Linked DNA regions of Homo sapiens: region 1 is linked to region 2. The links come from fine-mapping of genetic effects on gene expression. A gene starts in region 2. The other region holds a variant in brackets. All regions are shown on one strand. Distances are from middle to middle. Region 1 has its middle 13 kb from the start of UBE2L5. Region 2 holds the start of HMGB1 (high mobility group box 1).

Region 1 (8,336 bases), 31 kb after region 2:
TGACAGTCCTGGAAAGCCAGGAGGACTTGATCCCTCTACTTGGTAACCAGAGGTCACTGCTTCCTTAGCAAGCTAGGGAGATTCCAGGCCCTAGGTCAGTGTCTGATGGGAAGGACACACAGGAGGTCTGGATCTCTCACTTATTTCAGGATTAATGTACCCAACCATGCTACATTCCCACTGGAGAAAGCAAGTTAATGGCACTTCCAGACAAATTACGCACTATATCCTTAGATCATGTAGGTCAAGGGTCAGCAAACCTTTCCTGTAAGGTTCATTTTCAGTCTGCAACTTAGGTCTTCAGTGTTGTGAGTTGTAGGGTCTCTATCACAACTGCTCAGCTCCACCATAGTAGTTGGAAGCAGCCATCGGCAATCCAAAAAGAGCGAGCCTGGCTGTACTCTAAGCAACTTACAGTTACCCAAACTGGAGGCGGGCTGGATTTGGCCCACAGATAGTTTGCCAAACCCTGATGTATGTTATTAATAAAGAATCCTTTGCATAGATAATGTATTTTTGAAGAAGAATTATTTCTGGAAGTTACTTTAATTGGGGTACGGCCAGTGGGCAGTTAGGAGCTCTCTTTTGAACTAACCTATTCATCAATTAGCCATTCCTACTATTTTCTTTTCTTTTTTTTTTGAGACAGGGTCTCACTTTATCACCCAAGCTGGAGTGCAGTGGCACCATTACCACCCACTGCAGGCTTGACCTCCCAGGCTCAAGCGATTCTCCTGTCTCAGCCTCCCAAGTAGCTGGGACTACAGGTGCCAGCCACCACACCTAGCTACTTTATATATTTTTTGTAGAGACAGGGTTTCACCATGTTGCCCAGCCTGGTCTCTAACTCCCAGACTCAAGCAATCCGCCCACCTTGGCCTTCCAAATTGCTGGTATTACAGGTGTGAGCCACCACACCCAGCCCTAATTCCTACTATTTTCTACATTTGGACTATGAAATTTGACTTTTCTAATTCTACTGCGAAATCACATAGTGAGTGTGTAAAAGTGATGGTGTGTGATCCTCTTCACAAATTTCTATTCCCTTCCTTATCTGTTGGGAGACATTAGACACATTCATTTGAAAAATTGTTCTTTTCAACCAGTTCTTTTATTTCCATACACCATTTAAAAAGTAATTCCCACTGCATCTACACAAAGTTAAAATATATTAATTTGCTTCAATATAGCATTTTCTTTATTGTGTGCCAGAAAAATATCACGGAAATTTTCCTGTACTGAAAAGCAAATACCGCTTTTCCACTTGGGCAGCCTCTCCCATCCAATCGTCATTCACATACACCTTCATCATTCACTGGGTTCTCACTGAGCACTCCCTCTTAGCCATGCAGGTGCTCACAGATGTACCCCAAAGAGGAGCGGCGTGCAAAGCAACATGTCTTCAAATTCAAAAGTGACAGTGGGTTTGAGGACAAGAGAGGGGAAGAAATCCAAATTTAGAGGAAGAGTAGCAAGTGGTAAGGCTTGGGCCCAGGAATGAGCCAAGCGCAGGCGGGGAGAATAAATAGATTAGCTCAGCAACAGAAGAGGAGCCCAGCCTTTGGAGACTACAAAGGGTCATAAGGAGGACACAATTATTAAAGTAATGCAGAAGCCACTGTAATTTCTCAAGCAGGAAACTGACAGTGACAAAAATGGTGCTTGGCCAGGTGCAGTGGCTCATATCTGTGATAAGTTAGCCAGGTGTGGTGGCTCACACCTGTAGTCGGGAGGCAGAGGTGGGAAGATTGCCTGAGACCAGGAGCTCAAGGCTGTAGTGAGCTGAGTTCATACCACTGTACTCTAGCCTGGGCAACAGAGCAAGACCCTGTCTCAAAAAAAAAAAAAAAAAAAAAAAAAAAAGCCAGGTGCTGTGGCTCATGTCTGTAGTCCCAGAACTTTGGGAGGCCAAGGCAGATTGATCGCTTGAGCCCACAAGTTCAAGACCATCCTGAGCAACATGCCAAAACCTCATCTCTACAAAACATAAAAAAAAAAAACATTAGCCAGGCGTGGTGGTGTGCCTATAGTCCCAGCTACTCAGGAGGCTTAGGTGGGAGAATCCTTTGAGCCTGAGGTGAAGGCTGCAGTGAACTGAGATCGTGCCACTGCACTCCAGCCTGGGCAACACAGTGACACCCTGTCTCAAACAATAAAAAATAAATGGTGCTTTAGGCAGCGTGTTCTGTGGTTTCCCGGCCATTGGAGGTAAAACACTCACTGGGGCTGGGTCACCATGGGGCAGGCAAAATGGACATTAAGGTCAGGGTCCAAGAAGATTCCACAGGAATCAAGAGGATGATGGTAGTGTCACCAATTCCAGAACAATTGAAAAGATGTGGTGCTCATTTGAGAAAATGGTTTGCATCTTTAGCCTGTGCACATGTGATTTTAGGCTAATTTTCACACGGCCGTCGAGAGACTTGAAAACCTCTAGGTATTTTCATGCTCCTAGAGTGAGGATGTTCTATGGGTGGGTAGAGGTGGGTTATCTGTGTGGGTTTTATGCACTCTTCTTTACAGAGAGGTGGTAGCTGAACCAGGTAAGGAGCTTTCTGTCCTTTCTGACATCTGTTTGCTTAATGATCTCTGCCTACACCCTGTAGAGTTTGAAAAGCAACGTACTAGAACCATGTTTCTTCTGACATACGCTGGCTGTACAATGCACACGCTTTCCGACAATATCCACATCAGACACCTCTCTGCTGATTCTAGGCTCCCAGACTGTGGCTTTTGATTTATCCTGTGAATTGCCTGAATTGCCAGCTCTGGCTAGGCTGGCTTCTGAGCACAGCTATCATCACTCAGGCTGCTGTTCTGTCGCGGCTCAGTCTGTTTTGTCCGTACCACACTGGTTGTCGAACTGTTGATTGGTAAGCTTGCACTTGACTTATGAGAACCAGCTCAAACTGCTTATGACCCTAAAAGAGATTCACTTAAAGAAGGTGCTATGACAATTAAGAATACATCAACACACACTTAGATTAAATATTTAGATAATGCATGCATTAAGCAAAGCACTGTTTTAGTTTGATGATAAAATCAGGATCAGCTAGTCACCTGATAACATTTCATAGCTGCTTAATTTATCAATGAAACTCACTGACTTCAATTTTCCAACCCTACACTTGTAAGAAAGACATTAATATTAAAGATTGTAGTGATACCCAGTAGAGGAGAAGACAGTAATAAATAATTAGCTCCTTTATGCTTCAGTTGCTTTCCTAAATTACTTATGAAACAGCAACAAATACTACTAGTGCCATTGGGAAAGCTGACATTATCCATTTCTTATTTAACAATGGAGTCATTAAAAAAGGAAAGAAAGAGGAAAAGGAGGCTGGGAGTGAGAAACTCATTGTATTTAATACAGATTCTGGTATCTTTTTTTTTTTTTGAGATGAAGTCTCATTCACTTACCCAGGCTGGAGTGCAGTGGTGCAATCTCCACTCACTGCAACCTCTGCTTCCCAGGTTCAAGCCATTCTCCGGCCTCAGCCTCCCAAGCAGCTGGGATTACAGGTGCCCACCACCATGCCTGGCTAATTTTTGTATTTTTTTAGAAGAGACGGGGTTTCAGCATGTTGGCCAGGCTGGTCTGGAACTCCTGACCTCAGGTGATTGGCCCACCTTGGCTTCCCAAAGTGCTGGTACTACAGGCGTGAGCCACCGTGCCCGGCCAGATTCTGGTATTTTGAGAGGCTGCATGTTTGGCTGAAGGATATCAAAAGCTACTAAGCAAGAGAATGGCATTTGTTGTTACCAAAGTAAACAATTTTTATTTCTGTTTTCCATATGCAGGCATATGAGTAAAGAAAACATGCCACATTGTATTTGTACATTTTGGGAAAACATGTAGCCTTATAATCATCATAATATGAAACACATCCCTTATGCGATTAAGTGTTTCATCACTGCTCTGGGAGTTCTGCATTAACAAAGGAGATGGAAATTAGTGGTTCTGAGATATTTCAGTTCCAGTATGAATTCTGATACGGTCCAGATTGAAAGAACCACACCTAAATTGTCTCAGTTATGTGAAAATTTATTTTATAACTGTTTCCAGAGCATGTGGTTCAAATATCACAACTTATCAAATATAAACCTCATTGCCAGGAAATTTTCCTTGAGGCAGACTGAGATTTTTTAAATTTTCTGATCTCTCTA[G/A]GGATGGCAATGTCTCCCGTCCTCCATAATCTCCAAGATTTTTTCTCTCTGTCCAAAAGAGGAAAGCTTTGGTGGAGACAAAATCCCTGTCCCCAGATAAACATGCTCAAATGAATACCTTTCCAGAAAGTTCAGATAAATTGAGAGTTCAGATCAAAAGTTCAGATAAATTGAGAGTATTTTTTAAGAATTGTCATTTCCTTACACTCTGTTAACAGTTGTGCCTGCTAGATAAAATGTTTACAATAAACTTTGCAAATCTCCATATTTTGAGAAATCATTTGTGGCATTAAGACTGGAAATAGAAGAAATAAATGAAAATAAGAAATCATTGATAATGTCTATGAAGTCCTCAACAGTGCTTGGCACACAGTATGTGCTCAACAAATATTATAGGTGTTAGCATCATCATATTATTTGGGAATATTTGTATTTAATGAAAAATGGTACATATATATATTTATAAATGTGAACACATATTTATGTACAGAATAGGTATATATAAACAGAAAAGAGTCTGTCTTTCCTAATTGCCAGAAGTAATCTTTGCTTGTGAATTAATTCATTGCTGTTTGCTATTATTTGTTCTTCTGTACAGAGAGTTGGAAAGGAGAGCATACTAGCAGAGGTGTGAAATGGCTCATTTATTTGCATTAATTATTAACTTTGAAGCCTCACCAAAATTGTTCTAATCTTAGCATTGAAGCAACTTTGGTCATTGATGAAATATCTAATCAATGAATTAAAGTCACAAAACATGCTAAGAATGCCACTGTTACCACGTAATAGTGGAATGTGCGAAGGGACTTCAGACATCATCCAGCATAATGCCTTCATTTCACAAGTGAGTAACCTGGGGCCCGAACAAGTAAGGGGACATGTCAGATGGGTCATTCCAAATCTGGACTTTTGCCTCCATATCCAGGCTCTGGCCAGCCACATTATCTGTAAGGCTTTTTACCCTTCTATAAAAACTAAGTCTGGCCAGGTACGGTGACTCACGTCTGTAATCTCGGCACTTTGGGAGGCCGAGGCAGGTGGATCACTTGAGGTCAGGAGATTGAGACCAGCCTGGCCAACATGGCGAAACCCCATCTCTACTAAAAATAGAAAAATTAGCCGGCATGGTGGCTCACGCCTGTAATCCCAGCTACTCAGGAGGCTGAGGCAAGAGAATCACTTGAACTTGGGAGGAGGAGGTTGCAGTGAGCCAAGATCGTGCCAGTGCACTCCAGCCTGGGTGACAGAGCGAGACTCAGTCTTGAAAAACAAACAAACAAACAACAACAACAACCAAAAAAAACCCAAAAAACACAACCAAGCCAAGTCTATCTGATCATGTGAGTCTGTGTGACTCCATTACAGTTGGATTGGCCTCTTGGGGGTGATGGCCTCAAATACTTCTCAAATACAGAGAAAACAAGTTGATTCTAAAATGATGGAAAAGAAGGGGCCCCCACAAGCATCTCTCCTTCACCTCACCTTTTCTGCTTTGCTGTTGTGGATATCCAAAAATATATGGGTGTTCAGGTATATTACCTCACTTTAGGATTAAAAAGTCCATTGTTTTACTTTTGTTTTCTGAGTTTTTTGTTGGTGGTGGTGGTGGTGGTGGTGTTGGTGGTGGTGGTGGTGGTTTTTGGTTTTGTTTTTTTCCAGAGACAAGGTCTTTCTCTTTTGCCTAGGCTGGAGTGCAGTGGTGCCATCATAGTTCAATGCAGCCTCAAATTCCTGGGCTCCAGTGATGCTCCTGCCTTAGCCTCCTGAGTAGCTGGGACTATAGGCATGCACCACTATGCCTCACTAACTTTTTTTTTAGTTTTTTTAGAGATGGGGTTTTGCTATCTTGTCCAGGCTGGTCTTGAACTCCTGGCCTCAAGTGGTCCTCCCACCTCAGCCTCCCAAAGTGCTGGGATTACAGGTGTAAGCCACTGCACCTGGCCACCAAGTATATTTTTAAATGAGGTTTATGAAATAGGTCACGGAATACTTTCTCATATCTAAACATAGACTTTTTAGTGATAATTGGTTATTGATGAGTTCAAGAAACCACTTGTCTCTGATTCTCATGTTCTAAATAGGTGGTCCAGTTGTGCAAATTAGCCTGAAACTACATATGCACAGCCTAAAATGGGGTAAGGGTTGGAGGCTCCTCAAAGGCAGGGTGTAGGTCCCCTTTACAGTTGTATCTCCAGACCCAAGTGCAGCTTTTGGTCATTGGACGTGTTCAATAAAGTTTGTTGGACAACTTAATGAAAGAGTAAACAAATTAAATTTCTGGTTCTCCAAGCTTTTCTTTTTTGTTTTTTTTTTTTTTTTTTTTTTTTTTTGAGACAGAGTCTTGCTCTGTCGCCCAGGCTGGAGTGCAGTGGCGCGATCTCGGTTCACTGCAACCTCTGCCTCCCCAGTTCAAGTAATTCTCCTGCCTCAGCCTCCTGAGTAGCTGGGACTACAGGTGCCTACCACCGAGTCCAGCTAATTATTGTATTTTTAGTAGAGACGGGGTTTCACCATCTTGGCCAGGCTGGTCTTGAACTACTGACCTCGTGATCCACCCGCCTCAGACTTCCAAAGTGCTGGGATTACAGGCATGAGCCACCGCACCTGGCCCCTCCAAGCTTTTCATGGTAATAGAAGAGTATCTTAATACAGAAACAGGCATTTGTGTTTTCTTTTTTCTTCTTTTTTTTTCTTTTTTGAGATAAGGTCTTGCTCTGTCATCCAGGCTGGGATATAGTGGCATAATCATAGTTTGCTGCAGTCTCAACCTCCCAGGCTCAAGTGATCTTCTCACTTCAGCCTCTCAAGCAGCTGGGATCACAGGCATGTGCCACCATAGTTGGCAAACTTTTTTTTGTATTTTTTGTAGAGATGAGGGTCTCACTATGTTGCCCAGGCTGGTCTTAAACTCCTATGCTTAAGTGATCCATCCACCTTGGCTTCTCAACGTGCTGGGATTACAGACATTTGTGTTTTATGAAGTTGTGTCTCTCAAACTTGATGGTCTAGTGGCTACTTTGGTGAGTCCGAAAAATCAACCAAACAAAAAAACAGAAAACAAAAAACCCTTTTAAATTTTTCTAACCTTTTCTAATAGTCACTGCATAGCATCTTCCCATGTGTAAAGGCATATCCTTTGAACTTTAGAGGGTGACGTGGGCATGAGTCTCTGTACCTCATGGATTCCTCAGAATTCTATGTGATTCTGAAATGTTGACCTATTTCTCTTGCTAGTGAGCAAGAGAAATACTGAGGCCAGTAAACTAGCTGTCTTAGCGCCTCACCTCTTCTGGACATATCGCTGGTAAAGCCCATTTCCAAGTGTCTTGCACTAGTGGAGATGTGTGTTGTATGGTGTCCTCATCAAGAAAAAACACATGTTTGCTTGCTGAAATTTTGGACAATTTCCTTCTAACAAAGGCCCTTGCCTGCCTGTCTTTAAAATCCCAGCCTGGGGTAGGCACGGTGGCTCACATCTGTAATCCTAGTGCTTTGGGAGGCTGAGGCGGGATGATCACTTGAGGCCGAAGTTCGAGACCAGCCTGGACAATATAGTGAGACCCTGTCTCTACAAAAAATGTTTAAAAGAAATTAGCCAGCATGGTGGCACATGCCTGTAGTCCCAGCTACTCTGGAGGCTGAGGCAGAAGGATCATTTGAACCCAGGAGCTCAAGGTTACAGTGAGCTATGATCATGCCACTGCACTGCACTCCAGCCTGGGCAACAGAGACCCTGCCTGTAAAATAAATAAATAAATAATAAAAAAAATTAGAATCCCAGCCTGACTTATGACTAAATTTGTTCACTAAGTGGTGAGAGATGCTAACATTAAGTGCTGGTATATATGCTGCATCAGAGATGGCCCTTCCAACAACCATGTGTTGTGAAACTATTTTATGCATGTGGTCCACTAGTAGGAAAAGGCATTCTAGTCAGTACTGTCAAGAGTTCAGGCAGAGGCATGACATATGTATATTTTAAAGAAGGAGCAACAGTTGGGAATGGACAAAAGACACAGCCAGGGCACCCTCAGAAGCCTGTAATTATACTAGTAACCAAACCTTCCCATAGGAGAGCTCATTTTCAGAGAGGTGAAACTGCATCTGAAGACATGTTTCTGAGACATGAATACTGAGATTGCTTTACCTAGGCATTGGCAATAAAACAT
Region 2 (8,270 bases):
AATATAAATAAATAAATAAATAAATAAGTCTGGGCATGGTGGCTCACACCTGTAATCCCAGCACTTTGGAAGGCTGAGGCGGGTGGATCACCTAAGGTCAGGGGTTCAAGACCAGCCTGGCCAACATGGTGAAACCCCGTCTCTACTAAAAATACAAAAATTAGTTGGGCATGGTGGCACACGCCTGTGATCCTAGCTACTTGGGAGGCTGAGGCAGGAGAATCACTTGAACCCAGGAGGCAGAGGTTGCAGTGAGCCAAGATCGCGCCACCGCCCTCCAACCTGGACGACTGAGTGAGACTCCGTCTCAAAAAAAAAATAAAATAAAACAATAAAAAGCCAATTGGTAACAATCTTTGGGCAGACAATCTTGCAGTTTTCTGTGATAAAGTCTAATTTGGCTTGCCATAGTTCACTGTATCCACCAAGGAATAATCTTGGCCTAATTGGAAACTGGTAAATGCTTAGACTATATGTGTTTCTCTACATTTGAGATCCCCTCTCACCCTCCAACTGTGCCTCTCCCTTTTTAAGTTACGTCAATGAGATGTAATTGGCACCTATCCTCAATCTTAGTATCCTAACATTCGCTTCTTATTCTATTTTCCTGCCTTTTGATTTAGAAAGACCTAAATGCTTTTAGATCTAAAGATAGAAGAGGAAGGTTAAAACAATAATTTGCAATACGTACTCCTTCAGCTATTAATTCATTTATGCAACGGGCTTTATTTAATGCCTGCTGTATGCCAAGTACTCTGCTAGGTGCTTGGGATTCAAAGATAGGGGCTGGGCTCAGTTTCTCATGCCTGTAATCCCAACATTTTGGGAGGCCAAGGAGTTTGAGACCAGCCTGAGCAACATGGAGAGACCCTGCCTCTACAAAAAAAAAAATAGCCAGCACCAGGCACGGTGGTTCATGCCTGTCATCCCAGCACTTTGGGAGGCCAAGGTAGGAGGATCACTTGAGCCCATGAGTTTGAGACCAGCCTGGGCAACATGGAGAGACCTTGTCTCTACAAAAAATAAAAATAAAAATAAATTAGCTGGGGCTGGGCACAGTGGCTCATGCCTGTAATCCCAGCACTTTGGGAGGCCAAGGCGGGCGGATCACAAGGTCAAGAGATGGAGACCATCCTGGCCAACATGGTGAAACCCCGTCTCCACTAAAAATACAAAAATAAGCTGGGCGTGGTGGCACGCGCCTGTAGTCACAGCTGTTCGGGAGGCTGAGGCAGGGGAATCACTTAAACCAAGGACGCAGAGGTTGCAGTGATCCAAGATTGTGCCACTGCACTCCAGCCTGGTGACAGAGGGAGACTCCGTCTCAAATAAATAAATAAATAGGCCGGGCGTGGTGGCACTCACCTGTAGTCCTGGCTTCCCAGGAAGCTGAGGTGGGAGGATGGCTTCAGTCCCAGAAAGTCAAGGCTGCAGTGAGCCGTGATCATGCCACTGCACTGCACTCCAGCCTGGGCAATACAGCCATAACCTGTCTTAGAAAAAAAAAAACAAAAAATACAGAGTTCTTGCCTTTAAGGTGTACAGTGCAGTGGGACAAGCAGATACAACTGGAGAACCACAATTGTGATTGCAGTAATTAATATACACAATATTACAGGATTACAGAAAAGAGGTACGTCCCCTATCCTAGAGGGGATGGAGGAAGGGCATAAAGTACATTAATGACGATCTGTAATTCAGTTGTTTAAATTGAGCATGGGAGAGGGTGTTCAGGCCTCTTCGACTGGATGACTTTGTAATTTGGGATAAAACACCCAATAACTTGGCCGGGTACCAGGGCTCATGCCTGTAATCTTAGCACTTTGGGAGGCTGAGGCGGGCAGATCACTTGAGGTCAGGAGTTCAAGACCAGCCTGACCAACATGGTGAAACCGTCTCTATCAAAAATTCAAAATTACCCAGGCATGGTGGTGCATGCCTGTAGTCCCAGCTACTCGGGAGGCTGAGGCACGAGAATTGCTTGAACCCGGGAGGTGGAGGTTGCAGTGAGCTGAGATCGTGCCATTCCACTCCAGCCTGGGCAACAGAGCAAGACCCTGTCTCATAAAAACAAAAACAACAACAACAAAAACCCAATAACTGTAAAGTAAAATATGTCAACTTGTGACTAAGGATTCATGTGGAAGAAGAAAAGCGTCTAATATCATAAAGGAACATCAAGATTGTGGGGTTAGAGCTAGAAGATGTTGGTTTTATTTTAAAATTTCTGTCTTTTTTATGTTCTTCCCTGCCTATATCACAGAAAATCAAATATAAGAAATGAATTGCCTGCAAGTGGTGGTTTTTAAACTCTTCTCTCTGATATAGTCTCTGTTAAACTTGGGAATAAATAAAGGTACCATCACCAGACTAGGGGAAGATTAGCATTGTTTGAGGTTAGGATTTAAAAAAAACAAAACAAGGCCGGGTGCAGTGGCTCATGCCTGTAATCCCAGCACTTTGGGAGGCCAAGGTGGGCGGATCACCTGAGGTCAAGAGTTCAAGACCAGCCTGACCAACATGGTGAAACCCCGTCTCTACTAAAAATAAAAAATTAGCCGGGCATGGTGGCGCATGCCTGTATTCCCAGCTACTCGGGAGGCTGAGGCAGAAGAATCGATTGAACCAGGAGGTGTAGGTTGCAGTGAGCCGAGATTGCACCGCTGCACTCCAGCCTGGGCAGTAAGAGCAAAACTCTGTCTCAAACAACAACAATAACAACAACAACAAAAAATTCACTAGATTTGCAATCACTGCCTTCATATAAGATTAAAATATGAAGAAAAACTCAAGGTTAACTGCACTTGAGGTTTTCTAAATTATGGGATTGAAGGGGTCTATATAATTTTAAACATTAAAAAAAGTTTAATCTTTACAACCCTGTGGTCCCCTCCATTTTATAGCTGAGAGAATTGAAGCATGGAGGTTTAAAAACATGCCCAAGATCATACAGCTAGTAAGTAGCAGAGCTGGGATTTGCACCCAAGTCTATTCAATTCCAGTGCCTATTACTCACCATATCATCCTGTCAAAATAGAAACCTTGTGTGGGCCCATTGCTCTCAAGATGTCCTGTGGCCATAAATGCACCCTGGCAGGAGCAAGCTGGTATAGACAACCAGTAAAGTGTATGGCCGTGCCAGTACAAAGCCAACACTGCTCCTGGAAAATATTGATAGTGCCATATTCAACTAATCGTCAAATTTTAATATCATCGATGCCACTGAAAGTATCTTAATCATTCTCATGAATATTTTGTAATATGAGACATTGAGAAGATAAGACAGTATTGAAATAAATATCTAGATTTAAAAAATATAAAATTTGAATGATTAGTAGAGGGAAGCAGAGGATAGTAAATATGTGTGAAAATAATAACATAAAAGTTAACTTTAGATATATTATCTTTAAACACTGCATGTGCAGTATACCAATTTATATCCTCTTTAATATTATAGTCTTTTTCATGTGCATGTGTGATATATTGTCCATTCACCAAGACTATAATCCCTGAGTCCGATAGTGTATTTTCTTTTAAAAAGAAATCAACATTAAAACAGGAAAGATTATCTAAGCTTACTCTCAAGTAGTTTAATACATTTGAGGAAATAAATTAGGTTATGGATGCTTATAAGCGATATAAAAAATCAAATTAACACGATGTAGGTGATTTATTCCAAATTTGATCTGTTACATTTGGAGGAATTGGTTGTTGGATTTAGAAGTGTACAAAATACCATTAGAGAGTGAAAAAAAAGGGAAGTCTGTTATAACTGAATAGGGGCGTGGTCTGCTCAGGCTAAAAGGAATAGATAGTAGTTTCATAAAGGACTGATATAACTGTAGAGTCTTCAGAACTGGCCACTACAGCCAGCACATTTTCTCTACAGACGTAAGTATGTCTATTAATACCAGCCAGCTTGGTGAGTTAGAGAAACCACAGCCTGTGGATTTGGGCACATGCACTCTCTGCCTGCATCTAATCCTTCGGGTAACCATATACCTACAACTCCTGTAATCCTAGAGCAGTTACATGGATGCACTAAGTGGTGTGATGGGAGGGAAAGATAGCATCACAAGGATTCGTTTGATTGTAACAGTAATCCACACCAAGTCAAATAAAATAGCCAAACAGTTTAGAATGTGGTCTCTAATGAATTTGCTAATTCTACCAGGGCCTCACAAACATTTCCTGCTAGAGTACCCCATATCAAACCAAGTGGCTGTTCTTTAATTACATGGAATAATTATTTGATTTCCAGGAAGTTAAGACAGTGCTTTGTATTTAAATAAAAAGTTCTAGACATGCTGTGAAACTCGATCAAACCAAGAAAAAGGGTGAAACTGAATGCCTGCTCACTGACTCAAGATTTCAGCTGCTCAGCGAGCCTGACGTGACGGCTTATGAGCCCAGAAAAGGGGTATTTTAAACCCGGCTGGCTGGATCATGTCACTTTCTTATAGAAGCCCTGCCTTTCCAGAGACCTAAAGTGTAACGCAATCAGAGACCTTTGAGGGGCTCGAGGCTCGGCGGCTTCCGCCCCTCAGCACCAGCAGAGACCCCAGTTTTCAGGGGACATGATCCCATAGTGTCGCCCTCACTTTTGAAGGGCCATTAAAAGCCTGGGGCCTCTTATCTCAACGGCTTTGGGCGTGAATGTGGGGCAAGAAGGGGGGGGGAGACCTGTGGGTGTCTCTTTTGCCTGAGGAGTTGGAGACACTTGTGGAAAAGTCAGGCCCTTTTCGCTCCGGCGGCCGCTCCGGTGTGGGGCTGGCTTGGGTTAGACACATGCACACATACACCATAGAGCTCTGCTTTCCCGTAGCAGCTGCTGCCTCTGCCTCTGCCTCTCCCGCCTCAGCCTCTTTGCCCGGCATACACACACATTCAGATTTGCGCGCTGTTTCAATCCTTGATGACGTGTCCCCGGAGACAGCCAATAGCAAACGGGCTCTGGTCAGGACAATGGGAGGTATCGGGCCAATGAGCGAGCCCCGTGAGTTGGCGGTAGCCAATAGGAGCCGCGCTGGCTGGAGAGTAATGTTACAGAGCGGAGAGAGTGAGGAGGCTGCGTCTGGCTCCCGCTCTCACAGCCATTGCAGTACATTGAGCTCCATAGAGACAGCACCGGGGCAAGTGAGAGCCGGACGGGCACTGGGCGACTCTGTGCCTCGCTGAGGGTGAGTCTGGGGCAGCGCCGCGGCGGGGAGAGCGCCTCCGGCAGCTCCCCAGCCCGCGCGGCGGCCGGATCCCCGCGGCCGGGAGCCGGCGGGTCAGGATCCACACAAAGGCAAATGAGGGGGGACCGTGGGGGGAACTGCGCACGGAGCGAGCCTCTGCCCGGGCGCCGGGAACGCTGCCCCGCGCCGGTGCCCCGGCCCTCAGGCAGCCTGAGGCGCCGGGAGCCCCGCGCCCCGCGAGTTTCCACCCCCGGCGGCGTCCGCGCTGACTGGCGCAAAAAAAAAAATTTTTTTTTTAATTAAAAAAATTTTGAACGTGTTTTGGGCCCTCGGGCCGGGCGTTCGGGCGGGCGGCGTGCGCGGAGCGCGGCCGGGGCGGCGGGGCCGGCGCGGCTCGGCGGCGGCGGCGGGAGGGCAGCGGCGGCGCTTCCCCGGGCTGCATTGGCCGCCGCCGCAGCGAGCCGGGCGCTGGCGGGGAGCGCGGCCAGCCGGGCGGGCGGCGGGGCGGGCGGGGCGCCGCGGCGGGCGAGGGCGGCGCGGGGGCCTGGGGGCGGCAGTGCGGGCCCGGCCGGCCTCGGCCCGGTCGCGGCGGCGGCGGCGGCCGGGCGGCGGGGGGAGCGGCGCCGCTGCGCTCGCTGGAACATGGCTGACTCGGGCCCGGCGCTGCTGGCTGGAGAGAAAACAAGGCGGGCGGGCGGGGGAGCTGGGCGCAGCAGTTCCGAGGCAACTTTTTTTTTCCTCTCTCTTTTCACAGCCCCGCGTTCTCCGTGCGGGGGCGGCGGGGCGCGCGGCCCGCGCGGAGGGAGACGGGGAGTGGCGGGCGGGTGGGCCCTCGGGCGGCCCCCACCGCGGCGGGGGGAGGGGAGCGGCGCGGAGGGGAGGGCCCGGCCGCGCGCCCCCCGCCCCTCCCCCGGCCGTAATGGCCGAGTGTGTGCGCCAGAGCGCGGCTCGCACCCCGCCCGCCGCCGCCGCCGCGCCCGCACCCTCGCACTCACACACTCTCTCATACACACACACACACACACACACACACAAAGGGAAGGAGCCATATTCTCGCTCGCGCTCGCCCTCGCGGCGGCGGCGGCGCAGGCGGAGAAGACGCGCAGCGGCCATTCCGTGCGCGCCGGCCCCGGCGGCCGCGGGCGGAGCCAGCCCCCATTTCGAGCGGGGCTTCTCCCTGCGCCGAGCCTGACAAAATGGGGGCGGCGGCGGCGCGGGCCTGCAGGGCCTGCCGGGCGCACGTGGCGGCCTCGGGCCTGGGAGCCGGGCCGCGTCCTCTCTCCTCGGCCGCGCGGCCACCGGCGAAGTTCTAGGGGCGGGGGGCTCGCCCCGCGCAGGAGTCACCCCAACTTTCACGGCTCCAAAAAATACTTCCCGAGTTGGGGGAGGGGGCCACCGAGCCACGAGCAGGAGTGGCTTTTGTCCCTCATCCTTGTTTACTCGGAGAAACTTCAGACCGGACGTGTTTAGTCAGAACAGAAATACATCTCAGGGCCAAACCGATAGGAAACGAGGCTGCCTCGCGGTGGCACCGCCACCCCCCAACCGGGTTCCGAGCACCGGAGCTGGCTGCTGCTCCCTCTTTGGAGCAAAGTTTTATGCAAAGAGGGTGTTTTTTGAAACTTTCGGTGCACGGTGATTTTTTTTTTTTAAGGTCCCATAATTAGGAAGAGTCGACTCGCTTAGGCCCTTGTTTATTCCCTATCTAGTGCAAAGCCACGAATTGGCAGCATGTTTTCTGACCTTTGGTTTGGTTGGTTTAAAATGGTGTTCTAGATTTTAAAATCGTTTAAGTGACCAGTTAGATACTCATTCAGAGCAGACTCGGGCGGATAGATAGGGAATACTGTATGGGTATATCTTTGTGTCTAGACTTTTTGAGATCGCCCTGAAGGACTGTTTTTGTTTTGTTTTGTTTGCTTGGCATAGCCCCTTCAAGGAATTTAATCTCTCGGCCATATTCTTGTCTGATTTTACGGAGGTTGATGTCGCTACTGTGTTAAATAACCAGTACTTTGGTTTTCATTCCCTTACTAAGTACTTTAAGGTCTTATATGTCATAATTTTATTGCTAACATCAAATATTTATTTTATTTTTTAGAAAAATAACTAAACATGGGCAAAGGAGATCCTAAGAAGCCGAGAGGCAAAATGTCATCATATGCATTTTTTGTGCAAACTTGTCGGGAGGAGCATAAGAAGAAGCACCCAGATGCTTCAGTCAACTTCTCAGAGTTTTCTAAGAAGTGCTCAGAGAGGTGGAAGGTAAGAGGGCTTAAAACATGCTAACAAGGTAATTAAAAGACAGTTTCCAATTGAGGATGCAAAAAAAAGCCTAGTTGGCATTCTCGTAGTGGGACGCTATTACATAGCAAAAGACATTGGTTTTGAGGATAATTTACTTAAATGTTACAACTTAAACTTACAAATAATTATTTTGTAGACCATGTCTGCTAAAGAGAAAGGAAAATTTGAAGATATGGCAAAAGCGGACAAGGCCCGTTATGAAAGAGAAATGAAAACCTATATCCCTCCCAAAGGGGAGACAAAAAAGAAGTTCAAGGATCCCAATGCACCCAAGAGGCCTCCGTGAGTATCTTGCCTGTTTTTACTTCCCAGACACGTTTTACAGTAGAATCTGAGAGAAATTTAGCAAGCTACTTTGTCAGTTTAGAGTGTAAATGTACAATCAAAGTTTCTTAGCTAATACTTGTTCATATTGGTTATATTTAAATAGTATAAAATTCCTGTTGGGTGGGAGTGTTCCCAGAGCATTTGAATTAGACATTTGGTCTCCTTTGCCCAGTGTATCTCCTTTTGATCTTTTTATTTCTTGAAAAATACTATCCCTTTGAAATAGTGTAATTGTAGAATGTTCATCTAGGGTTCTAGCTAGTATAAATTAAATAGTTGTAAATTAAGCTTTGGTTGTGAAGGATATTTAGTATATTATAGTATTTGCACCCTGTCCAATGCATCACAGAAATTCACAGGCAGCTTTAAATAGCAATGCAGTGTACACTTGATAGTATTTGTTTTTGTGATCTGTTAACTTAAAATCCTAAAATTAATTTTTTTTTTAGTTCGGCC

What was found. PIP is the estimated chance that this variant, and not a neighbour inherited with it, causes the effect.
Region 1: its variant is fine-mapped to the expression of HMGB1 in left ventricle (GTEx, PIP 0.97).

The regions. Positions count from the first base shown.
Region 1 is chr13:30,431,813-30,440,148 of GRCh38, reverse strand. No RefSeq gene overlaps it. Among named protein-coding and RNA genes, the nearest start is that of UBE2L5, 13 kb to the right of the region's middle. The variant G/A (reference allele first, on the strand shown) is at 4,168.
Region 2 is chr13:30,462,706-30,470,975 of GRCh38, reverse strand. It overlaps HMGB1 (high mobility group box 1), which reads left to right and starts at 5,040. Exons shown (of 5, transcript NM_002128.7): 1 at 5,040-5,180; 2 at 7,282-7,445; 3 at 7,624-7,769; 4 at 8,264-8,270. The coding sequence starts at 7,296. RefSeq lists enhancers at 4,081-4,856, 4,857-5,632 and silencers at 5,068-5,377, 5,977-6,616.